Linked DNA regions of Homo sapiens. The main gene of each other region encodes a partner of the protein of the gene in region 2 in a complex. Each region holds a gene or a part of one and is shown on either strand. Other genes may lie near its edges.

What was found.
Region 1: PRMT5 (region 2) and WDR77 share a complex: the UniProt entries of both Homo sapiens proteins name them as parts of the methylosome complex.

The regions. Positions count from the first base shown.
Region 1 is NC_000001.11:111,439,390-111,446,256, forward strand, and holds the end of WDR77 (methylosome protein WDR77), read right to left. Parts: intron 4,736-6,867; coding exon 4,665-4,735; intron 4,533-4,664; coding exon 4,478-4,532; intron 4,006-4,477; coding exon 3,934-4,005; intron 3,373-3,933; coding exon 3,264-3,372; intron 2,741-3,263; coding exon of another isoform or gene 2,705-2,740; coding exon 2,636-2,704; intron 2,001-2,635; coding exon 1,841-2,000; 3' UTR 501-1,840; downstream 1-500. UniProt on the Homo sapiens protein: Non-catalytic component of the methylosome complex, composed of PRMT5, WDR77 and CLNS1A, which modifies specific arginines to dimethylarginines in several spliceosomal Sm proteins and histones.
Region 2 is NC_000014.9:22,922,886-22,939,525, forward strand, and holds the start of PRMT5 (protein arginine N-methyltransferase 5), read right to left. Parts: upstream 6,492-16,640; 5' UTR 6,477-6,491; coding exon 6,367-6,476; exon of another isoform or gene 6,341-6,366; coding exon of another isoform or gene 6,282-6,340; intron 5,731-6,281; coding exon 5,612-5,730; intron 5,327-5,611; coding exon 5,241-5,326; intron 4,776-5,240; coding exon 4,641-4,775; intron 4,018-4,640; exon of another isoform or gene 3,930-4,017; coding exon 3,817-3,929; exon of another isoform or gene 3,671-3,816; coding exon 3,621-3,670; exon of another isoform or gene 3,576-3,620; intron 3,412-3,575; coding exon 3,248-3,411; intron 2,156-3,247; coding exon 1,994-2,155; intron 1,825-1,993; coding exon 1,747-1,824; intron 1,653-1,746; coding exon 1,594-1,652; intron 1,557-1,593; exon of another isoform or gene 1,508-1,556; coding exon 1,385-1,507; intron 1,299-1,384; coding exon 1,123-1,298; intron 523-1,122; exon of another isoform or gene 276-522; coding exon 166-275; exon of another isoform or gene 84-165; intron 1-83. UniProt on the Homo sapiens protein: Arginine methyltransferase that can both catalyze the formation of omega-N monomethylarginine (MMA) and symmetrical dimethylarginine (sDMA), with a preference for the formation of MMA.

The DNA.
Region 1 (6,867 bases), on a different chromosome or scaffold from region 2:
TGAAACCCTGTCTCTACTAAACACACAAAAATTAGCCTGTAATCCCAGCTACTCAAGAGGCTGAGACAGGAGAATTGCTTGAACCCAGGAGGCGAAGGTTGCAGTGAGCCAAGATCATGCCACTGCACACTAGCCTGGGCAGCAAGAGTGAAACTCCATCTCAACAAAAGAAAAAAAAAACCTATGCTTCCCTTCCATATTGTAACCACCTTGACACATTTCCTTCCTTATCACACATTTCCACACATTTGCTTCCTTATCTCTTTCACTGAGTTTTTTCTCCATCATTCTTAAGTCCAGGAAGAAAAGGGCTATGCAAATTCCTACTCACCTCAAGCTCCCCCACCCCTTACTTTCTCTAAGTGTCCACAAAATTAAAGTTTTATCTTCGAGAGGCAGAACTTAAGTGATTGTACCTACCCATTCTATTTCCTCCCACATTATAAAAATGATGCAAGACTTTATTCCTACTCCACATCAACGCCAGAGGATCACACAACTACAAATTCCCATGTTTTACTCAAGGGTAATCATGTCAAGGGTGAAGCATGGAAGCTTTACTGAGAAATATTTTGCCCATATTCCTTCAGACTTTCCCAGTTTCATAATGTGATTTTTACCTAAATTGAACCTGCAAAGCTCAAAAGTACATAATTGATTATATTTACTTTCAATATAATCAGTAATTGATCCATGACTCCTAACTGGCAATATCCACTCCACCAACCCAAGAATAAATATTTACCTTAAGTTCTAACTAGCTACTTTGGGAAGCTGGGGAAGCACAGGAAAAATAATGGGCTACAAGACCAACACCATGATGACTCACATAAGTGAAATATATCTAACTACACATAACACACATGCTTCAAAAAAGACAGGCCAACAATGCCTAAACTCTTTATTTCACCAACCAGTATTTCTGATTTTCTTCTTGATACTGGATTTTAAAACCTTAGAAGTCTATAAATACTGCATTCAGACTTTCCACATCAAGAGAAAGGGGACCAGGGCAGAAGATGTCAGGCCCCATGCTGTTTTGGGGTGGGAAAAGTGGCAAAGAATTCTCAACAGCCTGTGTCAGTTTTCTAACTTAATTGAAACACCTTTAAGCTCTCCTTCATCCCCAAACTTTCCCCTATGGTGTCTATGATAGAAAAACACTTCTCTCTCATATATGTCCCATCACTAGGGAGCCAGGGGGAAGGGAGTGGGCATTACACAGGCAAGCCAAACTTTTTATTCAGCCAGAAAATGGATTTCTGATTCAGTTTAATGGTAAGGAGTTGTGTAAAACCGTACCAAGTCCTGCTTCTTCCTCAGAGTGAGCTGGGCTGCATTTTTGTGACTGGAAGCATTTCTCATAATGGTGAATTAAGCACTATAAAAAAATAAAGTCAATCCCATCTCTATGAGTAGCATAAGAGCTGCTTCCAAGAACCCAGGGATGCCCACATCCCATAACCCACCCAGACACGGCCAATTCCTCATAGACAGCTACATAAAACCCTTTCGTCAACTTGTTTTGGGGGGTGAGAGAGAGGCAGTGCTTAGGGAAGATGTAGGATGGATTTTTTTTATTCCTGCCACTACCAAAAACTATAAATCTACACACACACTCACACGCACATACATGTCCATTTTTAAGAAAGCTTTTCCTCCCTGTGACTACAGGAACCCAGAATCCAGCCTCCCTCAGGCTGAGAGACGATGCCTATTAACGGCACAGATCTAGCATATCAACATACTATAGAAGGCTCCTGTGTTGTCTCACAAGCTGAGAGGGCAGGGCAAAGAAGTGGACACTCATGGGGGACTTGCTTTTTGTCTTAAATCCAATCTACTCAGTAACACTTGCAGGTCCAGGGGCTGGGAGAGGTTCTGTGGGCACAACGTGGTGGACGACCTGATGGTCCCAGCCCACTGTGGTAAGCAGGGAGTGATTGAGCGGGGACCAAGTCGCATCTCTCACAAAGTCTCTGTGGGCTTGGCTTCTAAACCTAGAAGAAAGAAAAAAAGTCGGGGCAGAGTAGAGACAAGAAAAGCAGACCTGGAGAAAAAAAGAGAACCCAACACATCTGGGGCACATTTTTTGGGTGTGTTACACACATTTCACCAACTGTATGGCCTCATCGCCAGGATAGCAGTGTAGCTATCCACAGTGGATGTCATCAGTCATCCAATCCAGTCTTCTATTTTCATAGATGAAGAAATGCTGGATAGAACAAGACAGTGATGAGGGGCAGTAACAGGCAGCAAATCACGGCAAGGAGGGAAGTACAATTCAGGTCTTCCAGGTGCTGCCTTTTACCCTGTAGCAGGCTGCATTTCATACGCAGTTCTTTATGTGAGAGGGTAGACTGCCGCCCCCTTGTGGGAGAGCGCTGGAGGGCTAGACTTAAAAATTTCACCTACCACCCCCCTCTACCAAGGACACGGCTTGTCCTTGGGGTTGTGAATGTGCCCCAGGAATGGACAGGGTCAACAGCCAGCCTGCTTCCATTACCAAGTCCCTTCGGATACAGATGGAGAATCTGTTCTCCAAAAGCACAACACAGTTTTCTGAAGAGGAAAATGACTCGCCCACCCACTGCTCCCCTTCCCTGATTCCCAAAGGATTCCACTTCACACTTACAACTCAGAAAGGCTTGAGTCCAGCACAGCAAGTGAGCAGTCTTCACTGAGAGAGGCCAGGAAGGGAACACTATCAGATGGAGGAGAGGGTTGTGAAAGGTCCAGCCTGGATCCCAAGACAAAACCTTAACTGGGCCGGCCCTGCCGCCACTGTAAAGTGACCCAGGAGAGGCAGCCTGATTCCCACTTTTGGCTAATCTGGCTACTACAAGTCCACACTAAAAGTTTCAAGTAAAGATGAGGGAAATGAAGCAAAGTTAGGGTTGACAACCATCCTGGCAACTAACCACCCCATCTGGTCCCTCTCTATAGCTTCAGCAATAACCCAGAAACACAGGCTTTTCCAATCTCACAGTCCTAGAAGCCCACAACATTAACCATTTTGGGTGTTGGGCAGGAATGAAATCACATTTTAGCCATTTCAGACAGAAACCATCTAATCTGAAAAATCCTTTGACTCCCAAAGGATTCTACTTCACACTTAAGAGATCTTCGATGTTCCGAAACCTCAGCTAGAACACTGTCTGCTTTAAGGAACTACTTCATCAGCTAATGCTTTGAAAACATACACACACACCCTCACGGTTCCCATTTATACCCATCAGGCCCCTGATGACAAAGAACAGTACCTGTGTGGGGAGAACACCAGCCCAGTGACACACTGGGAGTGTACAGCTGAGCTCAGGACACAGCTTGTACTCTTGGTGTCCACAAGGGAGACTGTCCCATTCTCATCACCTGTAGAAGAGAAGGAACATGTCATAGTGATTAAGAGCATGGACTTTTGTGCCAAAGACTTGAATCCTAGTTCCTCGAGCTTGTAAAAGTTAACCATTCTGAGCATCAGTTTTCTCTTTTGCAAAGTAGGAATAATAAGTCACTGGATCATTGTGAAAATTAAGTTAATGAACGAAGCAGTTATTATTTTAACCACAAACTATGTCACCATATACACAGCCTCATGACCACGATAGCGCTACACCTACCCACAGTAGGACAGAATTCGCTATATAGCAATCCACTTGCTTTGTGGATCACTGACTTATAGCCATGCCCAGAATACAGAAGCTGGATCAATCAATCAAAAATCAAATCCACTGGGAAAATAATCATGTTCTCCAAAACTACACTAAAACTACGTTGGCATCACCCCACCTCCCCACCCTCAATTCATAATTCATCTAGTGTCCATGAGGGCTAAGACTGAGCAACAAGGGCCTTGTGTGTTGTGGAGTCAGCTCTTTCTTTTTCCTCCTCCCCTTTCCCAGAGTCAATATGAAGTCTGACACGCTGCCTTACCAAAGACAAAGACTTCACTTTGCTGAGGATGCCAAGCCAGCGAGGTAGGAAGGTAGCCAGGCGCACTGCAGCCTGCAAAGGAGAGACGAGGGTCTGGACCAAAACTCAGAGTACAGAAGAAGCAGTTTCTCAAATGATATCACTCTAAATCCTGGGAGCACCTTTATTTGATTTCCCAAACCCTGCTAAGGCAGCAGTGTCCTCATCCTTGAGCCTCATAACCATTTATCCCAGCAGCCTCCTGCCCTTTCTGGACACGAGTCACAGGCAAGTTTCAGGCACGAATCATGACGATAACAATTCTGGCCCCTTTGTCCTACCATCTAATAAAGTAAATCACCCACCCAGGAACTGGCCCTTCCTCTTGGTATTCATTGCACAGAATGGGGTTAGCAGAGCCTCACTGGAAAAGAAGGAGATTATGTCACTCATGTCACAGTAACTACACTGGGCATCTAGCAACTATGCTTTGACACTGGCCAAAGACAGTCTCTTCTATCAGGGTTCCAAGTACTATTCTCCCACCAATGAATCTCAGACTCACCAATCTGTGATGCTGGCTTGGGACAGCGGGTATCCCAGAGTAAAATTCTATTGTCCTAGAGGAAGGTGGAACAGAAAAAGGATTTCATAATCCAAAGGAGCAGTTGCAGGCCAGAAAGTCTCCCCACTAGAGACTTTGGCCTATGGATGGCTGGAGTGTGTTTAGGGAAGAAGGAGCTATCTCTTACCTCGCTGCATGAAAGAAACACAGAGTCCTTGTGAGGAGAGGCAGCAACACAAGTGACCTGAGCAGCATGAGCTATAAAGGAGAGAGAAAGAGAAATATGATAGAAAACAAGCTGAAGCATTACTAGAGGGCCAGCCCAGGAATAATCAAGGGGCAGGAGGGAGGGAGGGCTGGTCTCATGATGCAATTTAACAAATTTTGTGGGAGATTATGGATTAGACAAAAGCTAAGAGGAGAAGTTTATAGACTTATAAAACCTAAAAAGCCTTGTAAAAAAAAAACGTATTAGTGAAGATAATGAATGAGAAATTAGGGGCTTAGTAAGAATAACAAAGGAATTTCCAGTTTAGGCATCCTAGACGTGAGGGCTAAATAATTCTAGAATAGCAGTCTTCATACTGGAGTACACACACCTCCAAGTAGTATACAAAAACTTTTGAGGGAGTTCTGGGCGCTAATAGTATTAAGAGAGCCAATTTCTCTAATGTTCTCTTTCTTAAAATTGAACTGCCTCTGTTTTCAATCACTCTTCTCCCACTTCATAGAAAGAACACATACCTGTCATTCATCCCAGATCTTTCCACGCTACAATGCTCAGGGGTATAAAAATATAAGGGTTCTAAACTAAGGGACAAAAGGGGCTTTTCCATAAGAACCAAAGAGCAAAAAGAAAGAGCATCTAGGTAAAATTCAATGAAGGGGGCTGATCTTGTTTCAGTCACACCACAAACACAAGTATGGCTCTGTGACTTAACTCTGTTTCTGTCTAATAATGAGAACTAAAAAATATGATAGATCATTGTGATAAGGACATATTCAACAACTTTATCTGAATTTAAAAACAAAGTCAGACTTTTTCTGACAGAAAATTTAGTCTATCTTGGTCCACTGGCTTTACAATGCAGACTGGCTTTTGCCAGTTAGGCTGTTTGGTAGACATTCATGCAAACTAAGTAGCGTTAACCTGCGAATCTAAAATTTTGACAAATATATGCTTGAAATAAGCACACAATAAATTATATGCCAGAAATTACCTTCTCTGCAACTACTTAAATAAGCATTTTTAGGTATCAGTTTAAAAATGTATGAGGGGGCACAGATTTTCAAAACTGTTTTAGGAGGTCTACATGTAAAAAACTTTAAAGTCACTGCTACATGTTAATTAGAAGCTGTGGAAACCTTTTCTACAGTCATTTTACCAGACTTTCCCAGGTAGTCTGAATGTGGCCCTTCCCTGAGGCAGAAGGATGGAATTAAACCAGTTTCCATAGTTCTTTCCTAGCCCTAGAATTCATAGAAAGCCAACAGGATAAGAAGTAAGAAAAGGAATTTATTGCTCACTTGAAAAAAGCAAAGCTCTGGGACAAGCACCATGGTGGTGTACAAAAGATGAATACATGGTTCCTCTACCCTCAAAGGTTTTGGGGCAGGGTGCAGTGGCTCATGCCTGTATCTCTCAGCACTTTGGGAGGCCAAGGCAGGAGACCACTTGAGCCCAGGAATTTGAGACCAGCCTGGGCAACATAGCAAGACTCTGTCTCTACAAAAAATAGAAAAATAATAAAGGATTTGGAATTCAGCAGGGGGAATAAGACACAAACACAAAGAACTAACAAAAAGGCTGCATGGCAGAAATGCTGAAAAAGAGTTAGCATTAACCAGGAAAGCACATCATATGTCTAAGAAATAAAAAGCAAATATAATAGACATAGAACATTGACTTTTTTTTTTTCCCTGAGACAGTTTCACTCTGTTGCCCAGGCTGGAGTGCAGTGGCGTGATCTCGACTCACTGCAACCTCCGCCTCCAGGGTTCAAGCACTTCTCGGGCCTCAGCCTCCCAAGTAGCTGGGATTACAGATGTGCACCACTACGCCTGGCTAATTTTTGTACTTTTTGGTAGAGTCAAGGTTTCGGCATGTTGGCCAGACTAGTCTCTGACTCCTAGACTTCATATGATCCACCCGCCTCAGCCTCCCAAAGTGCTGGGATTACAGGCGTTAAGCCACTGCGCACAGCTGGGCATTCAACATTATTGTAAAACTATTTCCAAGTGACCCTGAGGGTCCAGGATACTGGACCTTGGATATGAGTCAGTGATTTCTCTGGCCTATAACTTAGTCATGTACTTTGAAGTTAGAAATGGCAGGGAAAGGCACTTAGCCATTGAGAGAACCACAGTGATCCCCCAGCATCTAAACCTTG
Region 2 (16,640 bases):
GAACTACTTCCCCAAGGATTAAAAAAAGTTTTACTTTAGTGCTTCCCCAATCCCTAACTTCTCCTTCACCTCTTCATCCCCAGCAGAAGAAAATAGCTGATGCAAATACAGAAAAAGAAGAGGACTAAAGAGTACCACTTCTTTCCAGAGAGAGTGGTTCTTTACCTCAGGGTCACGGTCCTTCTCCCTACAGGCTCGGACCTCATTGTACAGCTTGGAGGAAGAGATGGGAGCCAGAAAGGAAGTGTACTCCCCGGGGATGCTCACACCATCATCTGCACAGCAGGAGAGTCAAATTAGTTCCAGAGGGAGGGAAATGGTATGTCTGTACTAACTGAAGGATCAGAAGGATCAAACCTCCCATGTCAAAACCAACCAACGTTGGCATGGGCATGGAAGAAAGAGACAAATGCATGTTGTCACATTACTAAGCCAGCCTGCTTCCAACTACTGTCATGGAGGATTCCACTACTAGGTTAATTTACAGAGTCACACAGATTAAAACTGAAAGAACCCAAGATAGTCTAATCTGGTGGTTCTTAACTTTTGTGGGGTCACAAAGTCCCACAAAAGTTCCTGATGAAAGCTAAGCTCAGGGTACATATGTCATATTTATTTATTTATTTATTTATTTATTTATTTATTTGAGATGGAGTCTCGCTCTGTTGCCCAGGCTGGAGTGCAGTGGCACAATCTCAGCTCACTGCAACCTTCTCCTCCCAGGTTCAAGTGATTCTCGCGCCTCAGCCTCCCGAGTAGCTGGGATTACAGGCGTGCACCGCCACGCCTGGCTAATTTTTGTATTTTTAGTAGTGATGGGGTTTCGCCATGTTGCCCAGGCTGGTCTCAAACTCCTGACCTCCCGCCTTGGCCTCCCAAAGTGCTGCAATTACAGGCATGAGCCACCGCGCCCAGCCCACTCCCTTCATTTTACAAATATGAACACTAAGGTTTGGAGAGATGACTTCATTTGCTAGGGGCACAGAGGCAGTGAAGCAGTGGCTCTCAAACTCATATGATGTGACCCAGGTCCAACCCACTTTCCCCTAAACCCTGTACCCTCCTCCCAGGTTGCTGTCTCACCCATCATCACCCTCCACCTACACCCCAACCTGGGGGCACCTTTTAGGAAGTGCTGGGCTCCATCCAGGCACTCAGGCGACAATTCATTGTCAGCAAATGAGCCCAGAAGCTCACTGACAATGATGTCTGCTTTCTCTGGAGCCACCCATTCCCTCATGTCTGATGAGACTACGGTCACTTGGCTTCCCCATTCTTCAAACTGCCAGTTCTCTAGCCTGAAACAGAGACAATAAGGTAAGGAGAGATGTTAAGGAAATTTGGCAATGAGGACTAACTTCCCAGCAAGCAGGTTGCTACTCACGTCACCACGGCATTTGGGTTTTTCTCCACAGCATACAGCTTTATCCGCCGGTCGGCCTGCTTGGCTGCCCGCAGGGAAGCGTTCACCAGGGGTCCCCGTCCTGCTCCCAGCACCATCAGTACCCTAAGAAAGAAAGGGAAGAGTCAAGCAGACTTGGCATATACAGATATAGGTATGCAAGTCCCTGAGATTGAGGGGAAAGCACTCACTGGACATTGGTATCCTTCTCCTCTTCTGGTACTCGGTCTAGCAGACATTTATAGATGGCCTGGAGGGAGGAGAGAATATCCCATGGTTGTAATCCCATCCTCCCCAGGTCATGCTGGCCCTGTGCTTTCCTCACCCTGGGCACCACACAGTACCTGCTGGTACTGAGAGTATTTGATGGGGTCCTTTTCAAACACTTCATATGTCTGAGATTCCAGATTGTCCATCAGTGGCTGATGAATGAGGAAAAGGACAAAGTTAGCCAGTTTCTGGCAAAGGACAATGCACTAAAATATCAAAAACTTTCCACTGCTTTCTGAGTTTTAGTAAGATTTGGAGGCATATATTCTCAAGAAACATTTTCCATCCCACCTTCCTCCTCTAAGTGCACTCCAGACCCACCTGAAGCGGGGACTGCAGATAGTCTTCATAGCCCTTGGCAAAGAGTTCATAGGCATTAGGTGGAGGACGGTTCTGGCTTAAGTATTCCAGGTATTGGAGGTAGGAGCAGAACTCCTTCTCTGAGTGGTGGTTGGTGCCTGTGATGATGAACTGCACCTCCAACTGTGAGAAAAGTCAGACCATCAGACACAGCCCTCAAACCAAGATTCTGGAATATTATGGTATATGGCCAAAGAGCCCTAGTGTAAAATAAGGCCCAGATCAACAGTTCTCTTTTTTTTTTTTTTTAAAAAAAAAGATGGAGTCTCGCTCTATTGCCCAGGCTGGAGTGCAATGGCGTGATCTTGGCTCACTTGCAACCTCCACCTCCCAGGTTCAAGCAATTCTCCTGCCTCAGCCTCCCAAGTAGCTGGGACTACAGGTGCGTGCCACCATGCTTGGCTAATTTTTGTATTTTTAGTAGAGACGGGGTTTCACCATGTTGGACAGGCTGGTCTCAAACTCCTGACCTCAGATGATCCATCCGCCTCAGCCTCCCAAAGTCCTGGGATTACAGGCGCGAGCCACTGCACCTGGCCCAGACCAACAGTTCTCTAGCGTCTGTCCCAATACCAACAAAGGCAGCATGAGGCTTCAGTAAACTTATAAAAAGCCCCCTTGGCCGGGCGTGGTGGCCCACGCCTGTAATCCCAATACTTTGGAAGGCCGAGGCGGGTGGATCATTTGAGGTCAGGCGTTCAAGACCAGCCTGGCCAACATGATAAAACCTGTCTCTACTGAAAATACAAAAATTAGCCGGGCAGTAGTGGTGCATTCCTATAATCCCAGCTACTCAGGAGGCTAAAGCAGAAGAATCGCTTAAGCCTGGGAGGCAGAGGTTCTGGTGAGCTGAGATGGTATGGCTGCACTCCAGTCTGGGTAACAGAGTGAGACCCTGTCTCAAAAAAAAAAAGAAAAAAGAAAAAGCCCTCTTATGCCATGAAAGTATCAACACCCAAACAGCCTCATGGATCCTTGCTGTAACTTCCTAAATGAAACCTTCTGCAAAGTTCTCATGAGGTTTGGTTTGTTTTGAAAGGTTTCTAGGGCTACTACTGGCATTTACCTTTTTGTTCTCAAGATTCCCAACTTCACTGAAATTGCTCCCCAGAAACCAAAGAAAAAGAGTCAGCCTCACAGGAAAAAACGATCATACACAGGTAAATAAGGCAAGATGTATAGCTGGACTACCTTTAGAACCCTCCTACCACTCACCTTGAGGAGCCGGAAGATGAGCCTCTGGTGCATCTTAGAAAGAACAGGAAATCCCTTCTTATTGGTCAGGAAAATGCTAGTGGGGAGAATGGCTGCTTTGATGGGCTCCCCAAGCCAGCGATCAATGACATGATTAGATGGGAGGTCAGCCCCAATTTCAAGAGCTACATGAGGCAAAAGAAAAACTGTCAACCACTGCCAGGCAAGAAACCCTTCCTTGCTCCTTTGCGCAAAATCTGTTTACTTCTTTAAGAGAAAGCCAGTCTGAGACAGAGGGGAAGTAGCAAAATTGTATACTATATATGAAATTCCTGATTCTTATTCACAGGAGGTAAGAGAAGCCACACCCATCCCAGGATTCTCATGGACTCACCCACTGCAATCCTCTTACTATAGTCACACAAAGTCCGGAAGTTGTGCCACCTGTTCAGTCAAATACAGAAAAGTACAGTAAACTAGATATGGCCGACCAATCACCACAGCTCAAGGAGACCTCCCTACAGGTTGCACCCTGTACTTCCCCTCACCCTATCCCTTGCACCCTGGTACAGCAGCAAAGGGAGACATACCACATCCACGTTTTCTCCTCCCCACTGTACTCCTCTGTGTGTGTAGTTGGTGCATTCTCAATTATATCATCTCTCAGGTCCTCTGGTGCCACCAAGGGTACCCGCATCCAGAACTGCACATGAACAGTCACCCTTTTAGAACTCTCTTTTGAACTCATTGGGTCCAGAAAGTTTCCCTCAATAAAAAAAACTTCATCCAGACCTCGTTAATCCCTTTATATGCTTTTCCCAATTTGTAATTTTGTAAGTGAACATGTACCTTATATATAGATCCTTATGTAAATATCTGCCTTGTCTTACGTAAGTTTCCAAAATAATTACATTTACATGTTTTGAAACTCTCTTCATACCACTTTTAGATGGAGAGGTGCGCAATACTGACCTTTTTTTTTTTTTTTTTTTGAGACAAGGTCTGGCTCTGTCACCCAGGCTGGAGTGCAGTGGTGCAATCTCAGCTAACTGCAACCTCCGCCTCACAGGTTCAAGTCATCCTCCCACCTCAGCTTCCCAAGTAGCTGGGACTACAGGCGTGTGACACCCCACCTAGCTAATTTGTGTTTTTTTGTTTTTGTTTTGGTTTTGGTTTTTTATACAGACAGGATTTCACCACGCTGCCCAAGCTGGTCTCGAACTCCTGAGCTCAGTGATCTGCCCACCTCAGCCTCCCAAAGTGCTGGGATTACAGGCATCACCCACTGTGCCCGCCAATACTGATACTTCAATTCTGCCAAACACACCCTTCACTGAATGGCTAGGCACAAGAAGGTACTTAGCACAATCTGACTACTATGATATGCAGCAGGAAAGGAGCCCCTCAGCTATACCATGGAAGAGTGATGGCCAGTGTGGATGTGGTTGGTCAAAACTCTGGCCAGGTTGGTGTTATCTTCCTGATTAAGGGGCAGCAGGAAAGCTGGAAGACCCAAATATGCACCAAAATTCAGCTCCTGTAACATGGCCTGGAACGGAGATGAAGAGGAAAAGTTTGAGCTAACAAGCAAACAGCTTTTTTTTTTTTTTTTTTGAGACAAAGTCTCACTCTGTCACCCAGGCTGGAGTGCAGTGGCACAGTCTCCACTCACTGCAGCCTTGACCTTCCCAAGCTCAACTGATCCTCCCTCCTCAGCCTCCTGAGTAGCTGGGACCACAGGCATGCACCACCATGCCTGGCTAATTTTTGTATATTTTATAGAGATGGGGTTTCACTACGCTGCCCAGGCTGGTCTCGAAATCCCGAGCTCCAGTGATCCTACAGCCTCAGCCTCCCAAAGTGCTAGGATTATAGGTGTGCACCACAGCACCCAGCCTAATAGCTTTAATTTCATTCTATCAGTTAATTTACCAAGTTATTGGGGATGGGAGGGGACCACTCTCCCCACCCAGCTTGGTTAGAAAAATCCAGCAGAGAAGTCAAACAGTCTTACCGCCTCGGAGTTCCTGCGAATCTTCTCCACTTTTGAGTCTGGACGAATCCATGGAGAAAGCTTTCCCACAATTAGCGTATTCCAGTCTGCACTCCCCCACCCAAGAAAGACAAATACTGAATAAGGTTCAGCACTTTACTTGTTCAATTTTTAGTTTTGGGAATCAAGAGTAGAAATGAGAGACAAAGGTTTTTTCTACATAGACATGGGATAGCCTGATGCAGAATAGAGAAGCAAGGAGAAAACAAGTTATCTATATCCCAGGGACTAACAAATATATCCAAGTCAGAAAAGGAGGAGAATGAGGGCCCCGATAAAGCAGAAGTTGTTATTGCCTCTAATAATTAAGGGGCATATGGGATGGTCCCTACCCCTTCCTGACAGCAGTAGGTCTGATCGTGTCTGGGGACCGGGCCGATTCTTAGCAGGTTCCTGAATGAACTCCCTCTTGAAACGCGGATGGAAGACAGGCATGCAGAGGAAATCAAACCTACAACCGCGACAGACCCAGAATCATGTAAAGACAGCAGCAGTGCCAGAGAGCCAAGCAACTGGATTTAGGCTATCTTGATTTTGCACAGCCCTTTCAGCTGCCATCAGTTCAGCCTACTAGGCTGCTGAGTTCAGACCACCTTGGGGGATATCAACTCTGCTGTACTGTGCCTCAATTTCTCCCTAAAACACAGCCATGGGACATATGAGTAAGGAGAAAATGATGGATATCCACAAGTAGAATTTTTTTCTCCTCAGGTGTCAGTATGTTTCCAAGACCATCACATCCAGATTTGCCCCAGTTCTGCCCATGCCTCCCCCGTCAAAATTAGCCTCTTCTCTCCCTTGCCCCCTAACACCTCCTCCCACTCCCAGACAATAATCGCGACCTCCAGGGCCCTTTAGAGTTTACCCAACAACTCTCCCAACTTTGGGACTCAGTGACCACAGGCCTCCCACAAGTTATTTTCCTCACGTTACTGGGTCCGAGGCTCCTCCCCTCCAAAGAGTAATAGTCTCTCCCCTCCTCATCCTAGCCGACCCCCTCACCCCTGCTTCTCCGGGATGACTAGTCTGCCCTTCTCCGTCCCCGAGTTCGGACCCCGCATTCCGCTCGTGGAGGTCCGGCCCTCACCCCTGCTTGGCCACAGCCCCTAGTGTGTCAGCTATTTCGGGGACGCAATTCAGGTCCCTCCCGCTGGACACGCGGCTCCCACCAGCACCCCCGACCGCCATCGCCGCCATCTTTCTCCTCGCGCTGTCCACGCCGGGATTCCTTGATACTAGTAGCCAATCACAAAGTCAAACTAGTGCCCCAGAAGGCGGGACGAGTCGCCTTAACAACCAGAGCGTCTGCCACAGCTCCCGAACAGGAGGGATGGGGAGTGGCTTTTCCTGCCAATCCGCGGGCTGCACAGTGGCGTACGGCATGGATCCACCAATCTCAGGGTCTGGTTCCTGACGAACTTCAATCTCCCAGAATGCTTAGTCTATCTGAAGAACGCCGTTGAGAGACTACACCGCCCATGAAACCCTGCAGTATAACCTTGAAGTACCATCACGGAGAGAAACAGTGCCATCTCAGGGCCAGTGGCGCAATGGATAACGCGTCTGACTACGGATCAGAAGATTCCAGGTTCGACTCCTGGCTGGCTCGGTGGGGTTCCTCGCAGCTTCGCTGCGTGAGCATTTTGTAATTTTCCTTTCCTTTCGCAGCTTGATGCTTCTTTATTATCTTCACGCTTTCATTATCAGATCCTGAGTCGGTTGGGTTATGCAGCCATGTAATGTCAGCTTTTCCCGTAACTACCCTCAAAAGTGTTTTTCTTGTGTCATTATTTACGTCCATATGAACACTGAGAAAACTGGGTTAATGGCTGGTGCTATTAAAATGAGCTTTGTCACCTTACTATGTTACATATTAAAATAAACTGCTAACTCAGCTACTACTTCCTAGTGATTCTAGGAAGTAGTGTTTTGTGTTTCAAACACAAAAGGTGTAAATAAACGCCTAAACACACACACACACCTCAAGATAGAGAAAAGGAATTCATTAATTACAGTGGGCAGCAGTCATGAAATTGGCTGGCATGGAGGCCAGAGAGAATCTACATTTTCTCATGTCATTAGCTGCTAGAGATGGAAAGGAAGGAAGCAAGGAAAGACATAGGGAGGTAAATGGGAACTCCAGAAGGCAGGGGGCCCACTGGTGTTGAGGGCTCGGCAGCAAGGATGGAGAGGAGAACACGGTACAAGAGACCCCACGCAGGCGCCGCTGGCAGAACTTAGGGACCGACTGGCAAGGAGTCCTGAGAAAGCAAAGTAGGGGGTGATGCCTAGGATTCTGTCCATGCAGTGAGCAAGAAATGCGGAAAGAGGGTTTGGGAAATCAGGGTTTGGGTTTGGTCATGCTGAATTGAACGTCTAGGGGGCGCTGTGTAATAGAAAGTTGGATGGAGGTCGCTAGAAGAAAAGAACTGAGGCCATGCGACTGAGATCACCATAGCTCGTTGGGGACAGAGCCATAGGAAATACGAAAAGGGTGTGGGGTAGGATAAGTTCTGGGGAACCCTGGGTGCAATGCAAGTGCCCCAAAAGAATGAAAGCCGGAAAACCGGCCGGGCGCGGTGGCTCACGCCTGTAATCCCAGCACTTTGGAAAGCGGAGGCGGGTGGATCTCCTGAGGTCAGGAGTTCGAGACCAGCCTGGCCAACATGAAAACTCCCCGTCTCTCCTAAACGTGGTAGCAGGCGCCTGTAATCCCAGCTACTCGGCCAGCTACTCGGGAGGCTGAAGCAGGAGAACTGCTTGAACCCGGCAGGCGGAGGTTGCAGTGAGCCAAGATCACGCCACTGCACTCCAGCCTGGGCAACAAGAGCAAAATAATGTCGGGGCAGGGGGAGGAGGAAAGGAAAGTCGGAAAAACCAAAGCATTTAAAAAATGCACCATGAAGGCCAGGCTGGGCACAGTGGCTCACGCCCGTAATCCCAGCACTTTGGGAGGGCGAGGCGGGCGGATCACCTGAGGTCGGGAGTTCGAGACTACCCTGACCAACACGGAGAAACCCATCTCTACTAAAAATACAAAATTTAGCCAGACGTGGTGGCGTGCGCCTGTAATACCAGCTACTCAGGAGGCTGAGGCAGGAGAATCACTTGAACCTAGGAGGTGGGAGGTGGAGGCTGCAGTGAGCCTAGATCATGCCGTTGTACTCCAGCCTGGGCAACAGCAAGACTCCGTCTCAAAAAAAAAAACAAAAAAAAACCCCAGCACTTTGGGAGGCCGAAGCAGGCGGATCACGAGGTCAGGTGATCAAGACCATCTTGGCTAACACAGTGAAACCCCGTCTCTACTAAAAAAAATACAAAAAAAATTAGCCGGGTGTGGTGGCAGGCGCCTGTAGTCCCAGCTACTCAGGAGGCTGAGGCAGGAGAATGACCCAGGAGGCAGAGCTTGCAGTGAGCCGAGATCGTGCCACTGCACTCCAGCCTGGGCGAGAGAGCGAGACTCCATCTCAAAAAAAAAAAAAAAAAAAGCTCCATGAAGCCTGAAGTGATTGGAGGTGCTTTTGTCCACTATTATCGTTACTATTTTTCTGCTCCAGGATCCCATGCAGCATATCATATGACATTTAGTTGCTATGTCTCCTTAGGCTCCTCTTGGCTATGACAGTTTCTCAGATGTTCCTTGTTTTTGATGACTTTGGTAGTTTTGAGGAGTACTGGTTAGGTATATTGTAGGATGCCCCTCTATTGGAATTTGTCTGTTTGTCTCATGATTAGACTGTGTTTTGGGAAGGAAGGTCACAGAGTTAAAGTGCTGTTTTTGCCGGGGGCAGTGGCTCAGGCCTGTAATCCCAGCACTTTAGGAGGCCGAGGCAGGCAGATCACCTGAGGTCAGGAATTCGAGACCAGCCTGGCCAACATGGTGAAACCCCGTCTCTACTAAAAATACAAAAATTAGCCAGGAATGGTGGCATGCGCCTGTAATACCAGCTACTCGGAGGCTGAGGCAGGAGAACTGCTTGAAACTGGGAAGCAGAGGCTGCAGTGAGCCGAGATCACACCACTGCACTCCAAGCCTGGGTGACAGAGCGAGACTCCATCTCAAAAAAATAAAAGTGCTATTTTAATCACATCATATCAAGGGTACATACTATGAACATGATTTATGACTTAATGTTGACCTTGATCACCTGAAAAGAAGTAGTTTATCCAGTTTTTCCACTGTTAAGTGATTCTCTCCCACCCTCTCCCCGGCCCCAACTTTCCATACTGTATTCATTGGAAGGAAGTCACTATGCTCCCCCTCCTTAGAGTTGGAGTATCTACAGAATTTATTTGGAATTCTTCCCTCCAGGTCTTTCCAATAAATGGTTGTTCTCAGCAAGTGGGTGAGTACTCCACCAGCATTTTATTTATTTATATTTTATTTCATTTTTCATTTTATTTTGAGACAGAGTCTTGCTCTGTCGCCCAGGCTGGCGTGCAGTGGCATGATCTCAGCTCACTGCAACCTCCACCTCCCGGGTTCAAGCAATTCTCCTGCCTCAGCCTCCCAAGTAGCTGGGACCACAGGTGTGCACCACCATGCCTGGCTAATTTTTGTATTTTTAGTAGAGACGGGGTTTCACCATGTTGGCCAGGCTGGTTTCAAACTCCTGACCTCAGGTGATTCACCCACCTCGGCCTCCCAAAGTGCTGGGATTACAGGTGTGAGTCATGACGCCCCACTTTCACTGGCATTTTAAGAGGTAAAAGAAAGAGTTGTTGAGGAGGTCTGCTTGTTCTCTGCCCTAGTTGTGCCCAGCCAAACTCTACATTCACAGAAGACTTGTTAGATGTTTTTTCTTCTTTAGAAGCTAATTGTCTAGATTGTGGACCATCTGTGCTCCTGGCATCTCACTCCTGATGTCAAGCAGGTAGCTGCTCTGTTGGTTGTTAACTAACCCATCATGGGTGACAGGGAGAGAGGACAATCTATAAAACAATAATGTCAGTTTTGCCATCAGTTAAAGTAATTTTCTAAAGGATTCATGTAAAAAGAACCTAGAATTTCTGACTGACCCTAAAGTAAGTTTACATGGGCTGAATTTCTTTGGTCTGTGCTGTCTTTGTCTTTTCATTCCAAATGGCCTCGGCATTGTGGCTAGCATCATGCTGAACAGTTCTCAGTAACTCCATACCACGTTGCTCTCAGCCTTTTCTATAGCACTTTCCTGTGCCATAAAACACAGCATGTAACCGTGGGTCTGTCTACATGAGTTGTAGAGGAGCAAGAAGGGAAGGAATGAAGAGAAATAGAGCGCCTTGAACAGGTCCTGTCCCTAGGCGTTAAGTCAAAGTTGGTGAAGTCTACATTATGTTCTGCTTTGCTCTGCTCTGCATGCTGAGTTTTTGGGCCCAGAAGTGTGTGAATCACTGTTATACTATGGGACTTTTGCCTTGGCTGAGATGAAGATAGGGAAATGGTGGGACAGAAGGGCAAATACCCTGGGTGAGAAATAATGTTACTTTCTCCAACAGGAGCCAATGACCAATAGGCCAGAGCACTGGAGACTTTCTGGAAGAAAGAGGTACCCACTCCCAGATAATGCTCCCACTTATCCCCCTGGCTTTCCTCGCTTTCAGGCCCAATTCTTCCACCTTATCTTGTTCTTTTGTCCTTGTTTAAACACCTCTAGCCCATTGAAAACCTCTTGGCATCTTCTACTGTGCTCCCCTCCTCCCTCAGCGCTTGCCTCCCTCCCCAGGCCCACCTTCACTCATCTCTGTGCCTGCCCAGCCAGCCACACTCTTCAACACCAAAATAATGGCCTGTTTGACCCTCCTACTGCTCCAAATTTCTTTTTCACAATCAAGGCTGTACTCCAGCTATGAAAGTGGCAGAGTTACTGAGGCAAAATAATCTGTGCAGATTTGCATTCTCTTTTTTGTCATCTCTATTATACAGTGTTTATCTGTCAAAATGAATAGAAAGCAGGAACTGTTCTGAACATAGAAAAAGATGGAAAACTACCCAATTTATTTATGAAGACAGAACACATCTAATATCAAAACCTGTCAGAAATAACACTCCCAAAAAAGCTATAGACCCTTACTTATGGATATAAATGTTAGATTCCTAAAATATTTAAGATTAATAAATAAAACGTAACAGTATGTTAATATAGTAATTATATAATACAACCAATTAGGGTTTATACCAATAATTAATACAAAGGTATTAGGAAATTTCTTTATAGAATAGGTCAAAAATAAACCAAACAAAAAATATTTGACGGTTGTTAATTGTCAAAGAAGAGAACACAGTATGTTAACTGCATTTTCTATAAATATTCTTTTTTTTTTTTGAGACAGTCTCGCTCTGTCGCCCAGGCTGAAGTGCAGTGGCGCGATCTCAACTCACTGAAACCTCCATCTCCTGGGTTCAAGCAATTCTCCTGCCTCAGCCTCCCGAGTAGCTGGGACTACAGGCGTGTGCCACCATGCCCGGCTAATTTTTTTTGTATTTTTATTACAGACAGGGTTTCATCGTATTGGCCAGACTGATCTCAAACTCCTGACCTCGTGATCCGCCCGCCTTGGCCTCCCAAAATGCTGAGATTAGAGGCATGAGCCACCGCACTTGGCCATAAATATTCTTAATAGTTTTGATATTCATCATGTATGTGTATATATAAGATCAAAAACTTATGTAAAGATGAAATGAGCTGCCCTGCATGGTTGTAAGTGCCTGTAGTCCCAGATACTCAGGAGACTGAGATGGGAGGATCCCTTGAGCCCAGGAGCTCGAGGTCAGCCTGGGCAACACGATGAGACCTTTTCTTAAAAAAAAAAAAAAAAGATACAAGAATATCTAGTCTCATCACTGAGTTATTTAGTATTATTCTGAAAAATCCAATATAATAAGATTGGAAATAGAAAAAAAGGGGTTACAACTTTTAGGAAGGGAGAGGTAAATTTATCATTATTTGTAGATAATATGATTGTACACATAGAAAATGCGTAAGAATCCATTTTAAAATGATGAGAATTAATACTAGAATGCAGAGAAGTAACTTGATGTAAGATAAGTATAAAATAAATCTGTAGCTTCTCATATACTAAGATTAACCAGTTAGAAGACATTATTGATTTTTAAAAATCCCAATAATATGATAGTTAAGAGTATGGCCTGCTAAACCAGATAGCAAGACGTTAAAGCCCTGTTCATTCATTTACTAGGACTGTGAACCTAACCCTTCTGGCCTCAGTTTTCTCATCCACAAAATGGGAATGTAAATAATAGCTCTTATAAAGTCATTATGAATATTAAATTAGTTAACATAGTAAAGCATTTAGAAGCTACCCTGCACATAGTAAACCTTCAATACATATTGGCTATTGTGATTATTATTTTCCCCATTCACAGTGGTAACAGTAACACTACTATAAAATATTTATCTTTACTGAAAAATGTGAGAAACTGACATAAAGAAAATTATAGGCTGGTTACAGTGGCTTATGCTTGTAATCCCAACACTTTGGGAGGCCGAGGCAGGAGGATTGCTTGAGCCTAGGAGTTCAAGGCCAGCCTAGGCAACATAACAATACCCCATCTCTACAAAAAAATTTTAAAAATTAGCTGGGCGTCAGCCTGGCCAACATGGTGAAACCCCGTCTCTACTGAAAATACAAAAATTAGCTGGGTGTGGTGGCACATGCCTGTAATCCCAGCTACTCGGGAGGCTGAGGCGAGAGAATCCCTTGAACCTTGGAGGCAGAGATTACCGTGAGCCGAGATTGTGCCGCTGCACTCCAGTCTGGGCGACAGAGTGAGACCCTGTCTCAAAAAAAAAATTAGCAGCCGGGCACGGTGGCTTGTAATCCCAGCACTTTGGGAGGCCGAGGCAGGTGGATCACCTGAGGTGAGGAGTTCGAGACCAGCCTGGCCGACATGGTGAAAGCCTATCTCTACTGAAAATACAAAAATTAGCTGGGCGTGGTGGCAGGCACTTATAATCCCAGCTACTCAGGAGGCTGAGGCAGGATAATTGCTTGAAGCTGGTAGGCGGAGGTTGCAGTGGGCCAAGATCGGGCCATTGTTCTCCAGCCTGGGCAACAAGAGCAAAACTCCATCTCAAAAAAAAAAAAAATGACCTGGGCATTGTGGCACACACCTGTAGTCCCAGCTACCCAAGAGGCTGAGGTGGGAGGACTGCTTGAGCCCAGGAAGTTGAGTCTGCAGTGAGCTGTGATCAAACCACTGCACTCCAGCCTGAGTGACAGAGCAAGACCCTATCAAAAAGGAAAAAAAAAAAATTGCTGCAAGATAAAATAGAAGACTAAAAAAAAAATGGAGAAACAAGCCATAATCTTAGAAAATAATGAATCTTATAAAGATGTAAATTCTTACCAAATTAATTTCTCAAGTTCTCACTTTTACAACATTCAATTACGATTCTTTTTTTTTGTTTTTTGAGACGGAGTCTCGCTCTGTCACCCAGGCTGGAGTGCAGTGGCACGATCTCAGCTCACTGCAAGCTCCGCCTCCCAGGTTCATGCCATTCTCCTGCCTCAGCCTTCCAAGTAGCTGGGACTACAGGCGCCCGCCACCACGCCCGGCTAATTTTTTGTATTTTTAGTAGAGATGGGGTTTCACCGTGTTAGCCACGGTGGTCTCAATCTCCTGACCTCGTGATCCACCCGCCTCGGCCTCCCAAAGTGGGGGGATTACAGGCGTGAGCCACTGCGCCCGGCCCATTCAATCACAATTCTAATGGAATCTTTTGTTACTTGATAAAATAATTCTACTGTTAATCTGCAATAAAAATCAGACAAGAAAAGCAAGGAAAACTCAAAAAGAGAGGAGAAAGAGGCCAGGGAGTGGTGGATTTTTTTTTTTTTTTTTTTTTTTTTTTTTTTTGAGACACCTCTGCCTCTCAGGCTCAAGTGATTCTCCTGCTTCAGCCTCCCAAGCAGCTGGGATTACAGGCGCACGCCACTACTGCCCGGCTAATTTTTGTATTTTCAGTAGAGACGGGGTTTCACCATGTTGGCCAGGTTGGTCTTGAACTCCAGACCTCAAATGATCCACCCACCTCAGCCTCCCAAAGTGCTGGGATTACAGGCGTGAGCCACCACACCCGGCCTCAATGAAATCTTCAGCAGCCATTAAAATCAGTGTTGTCAAAGAAAATGTAGTAACATGGAGAAAGTCTTATGACATGCCATTAAGAGACACACATTACAAATTTTACACACAGAATGACCTCAACTATGTGGAAAAATTGTATTTTCCAAATGTTCTGTATAAGCGTGTTTATATTACACGTAAAATATTTTTTAAAATACATATAAAACCTGTTACCTTGGCCGGGCACGGTGGCTCACGCCTGTAATCCCACCACTTTGGCAGGCTGAGGCAGGCAGATCACCTGAGGTCAGGAGTTCAAGACCAGCTTGGCCATGGTGAAACCCCGTCTCTACTAAAAATACAAAAAATTAGCCAGGCATGGTGGTGTGTGCCTGTAATCACAGCTACTTGGGAGGCTGATGCAGGAGAATCACTTGAACCCGGGAGGCGGAGGTTGCAGTGAGCCGAGATCGCGCTATTGCACTCCAGCCTGGGCAACGAGTGAAACTCTGTCTCAAAAAAATAAAATAAAAATAAATAAACCTGTTACCTCTCCCTGATCTTTGTGCTTATGTCCTTTCTTTTGAAGGTCTAGCCAAGGCCTCCCTCCTTCTCTATAGGCTTGTGTAGCTATCCAGTCTTCAGCAATCATTCTTGCCTCATAACATGATAGTCCTAGCCAGGCTAATATTTATTTATTTATTTATTTTTGTGAGATGGAGTCTCACTCTGTCACCCAGGCTGGAGTGCAGTGGCACAATCACGTCTCACTGCAAGCTCCACCTCCCGGGTTCAAGCAATTCTCTGCCTCAGCCTCCCAAGTAGCTGGGATTGCAGGTGACCGCCACCATGCCTGGCTAATTTTTGTATTTTTAGTTGAGACGGGATTTCACCATCTTGGCTAGGCTGGTCTTGAACTCCTGACCTCGTGGTCCACCTACCTCGGCCTCCCAAAGTGCTGGGATTATAGGCATGAGCCACCATACCCTGCCCAGGCTAATATTAATTAAGCTCTACCACATGCCAGGCACTTTAAATATATTATCTCAAAAGGCTGGGCGCAGTGGGTCATACCTGTAATCCCAGCACTTTGGGAGGCCAAGGTCAGCAGATCACTTGATGTCAGGAGTTCAAGAACAGCTTGGCCAATATAGTAAAACCCCATCTCTACTAAAAACACAAAAAAATTAGCTGAGCCTGGTGGTGCACTTATAATTGTAGTTACTTGGGAGGCTGAGGCAGGAGAATCGCTTGAACCCAGGAGGCGGAGGTTGCGGTGAGCCAAGATAGCGCCATTGAACTCCAGCCTGGGCAACAAGAGCGAAACTCCTTCTCAAAAAAAAAAAAAAAGAAAAAAAAGGAAACAAATATTTTAAAATTTTCTCAGCCCGTTGCAGTGGCTTACCCTTGTGATCCTAACACTTTTGGGAGGCAGAGGTGGGAGGACTGCTTGAGCCCAGGAGCTCCAGACTAACCTGAGCAACAGAGTGAGACCACGTCTCTGCAAAACAAAACAAAACAAAAACCCAGCATGGTGGCACGTGCCTGTAGTCCTAGCTACTAGGGAGGCTGTGGTGGGAGGATCCTTTGAGCCAAGGAGGTTGAGGCTGCAGCTGCACTCCAGCCTGGTTGACAGAGTAAGACCCTGTCTCCCAGAAAAAGAAAACAAACAAGCAAAAAAACTGGGCAAAGGACATGAACAGACACTTCTCTAAAGAAGACATAGATGTTGCCAACAAATATATGGAAAAAATGTTCAATATTACTAATCATTAGAGAAAGGCAAATCAAAACCGCAATAAGATACCATCTCACACCAGTCAGAATGGCTATTATTAAAAAGTCATGCCGGGCGCAGTGGCTCACACCTGTAATCCCAGCACTTTGGGAGGCCGAGACGGGTGGATCACGAGGTCAGATCGAGACCATCCTGGCTAACACAGTGAAACCCTGCCTCTACTAAAAATACAAAAAATTAGCCGGGCGCAGTGGCGGGTACCTGTAGTCCCAGCTACTCGGGAGGCTGAGGCAGGAGAATGGCGTGAACCCGGTAGGTGGAGCTTGCAGTGAGCAGAGATCGTGCCACTGCACTATAGCCTGGGCGACAGAGCAAAACTCTGTCTCAAAAAAAAAAAAAAATGAAAATTAAAAAGTCATGGCTGGGCTGGGCACGGTGGCTCATGCCTGTAATCTCAGCACTTTGGGAGGCCAAGACGGGTGGATCACCTGAGGTCAGGAGTTCGAGACCAGCCTGACCGACATGGTGAAACCCCGTCTCTACTAAAGATACA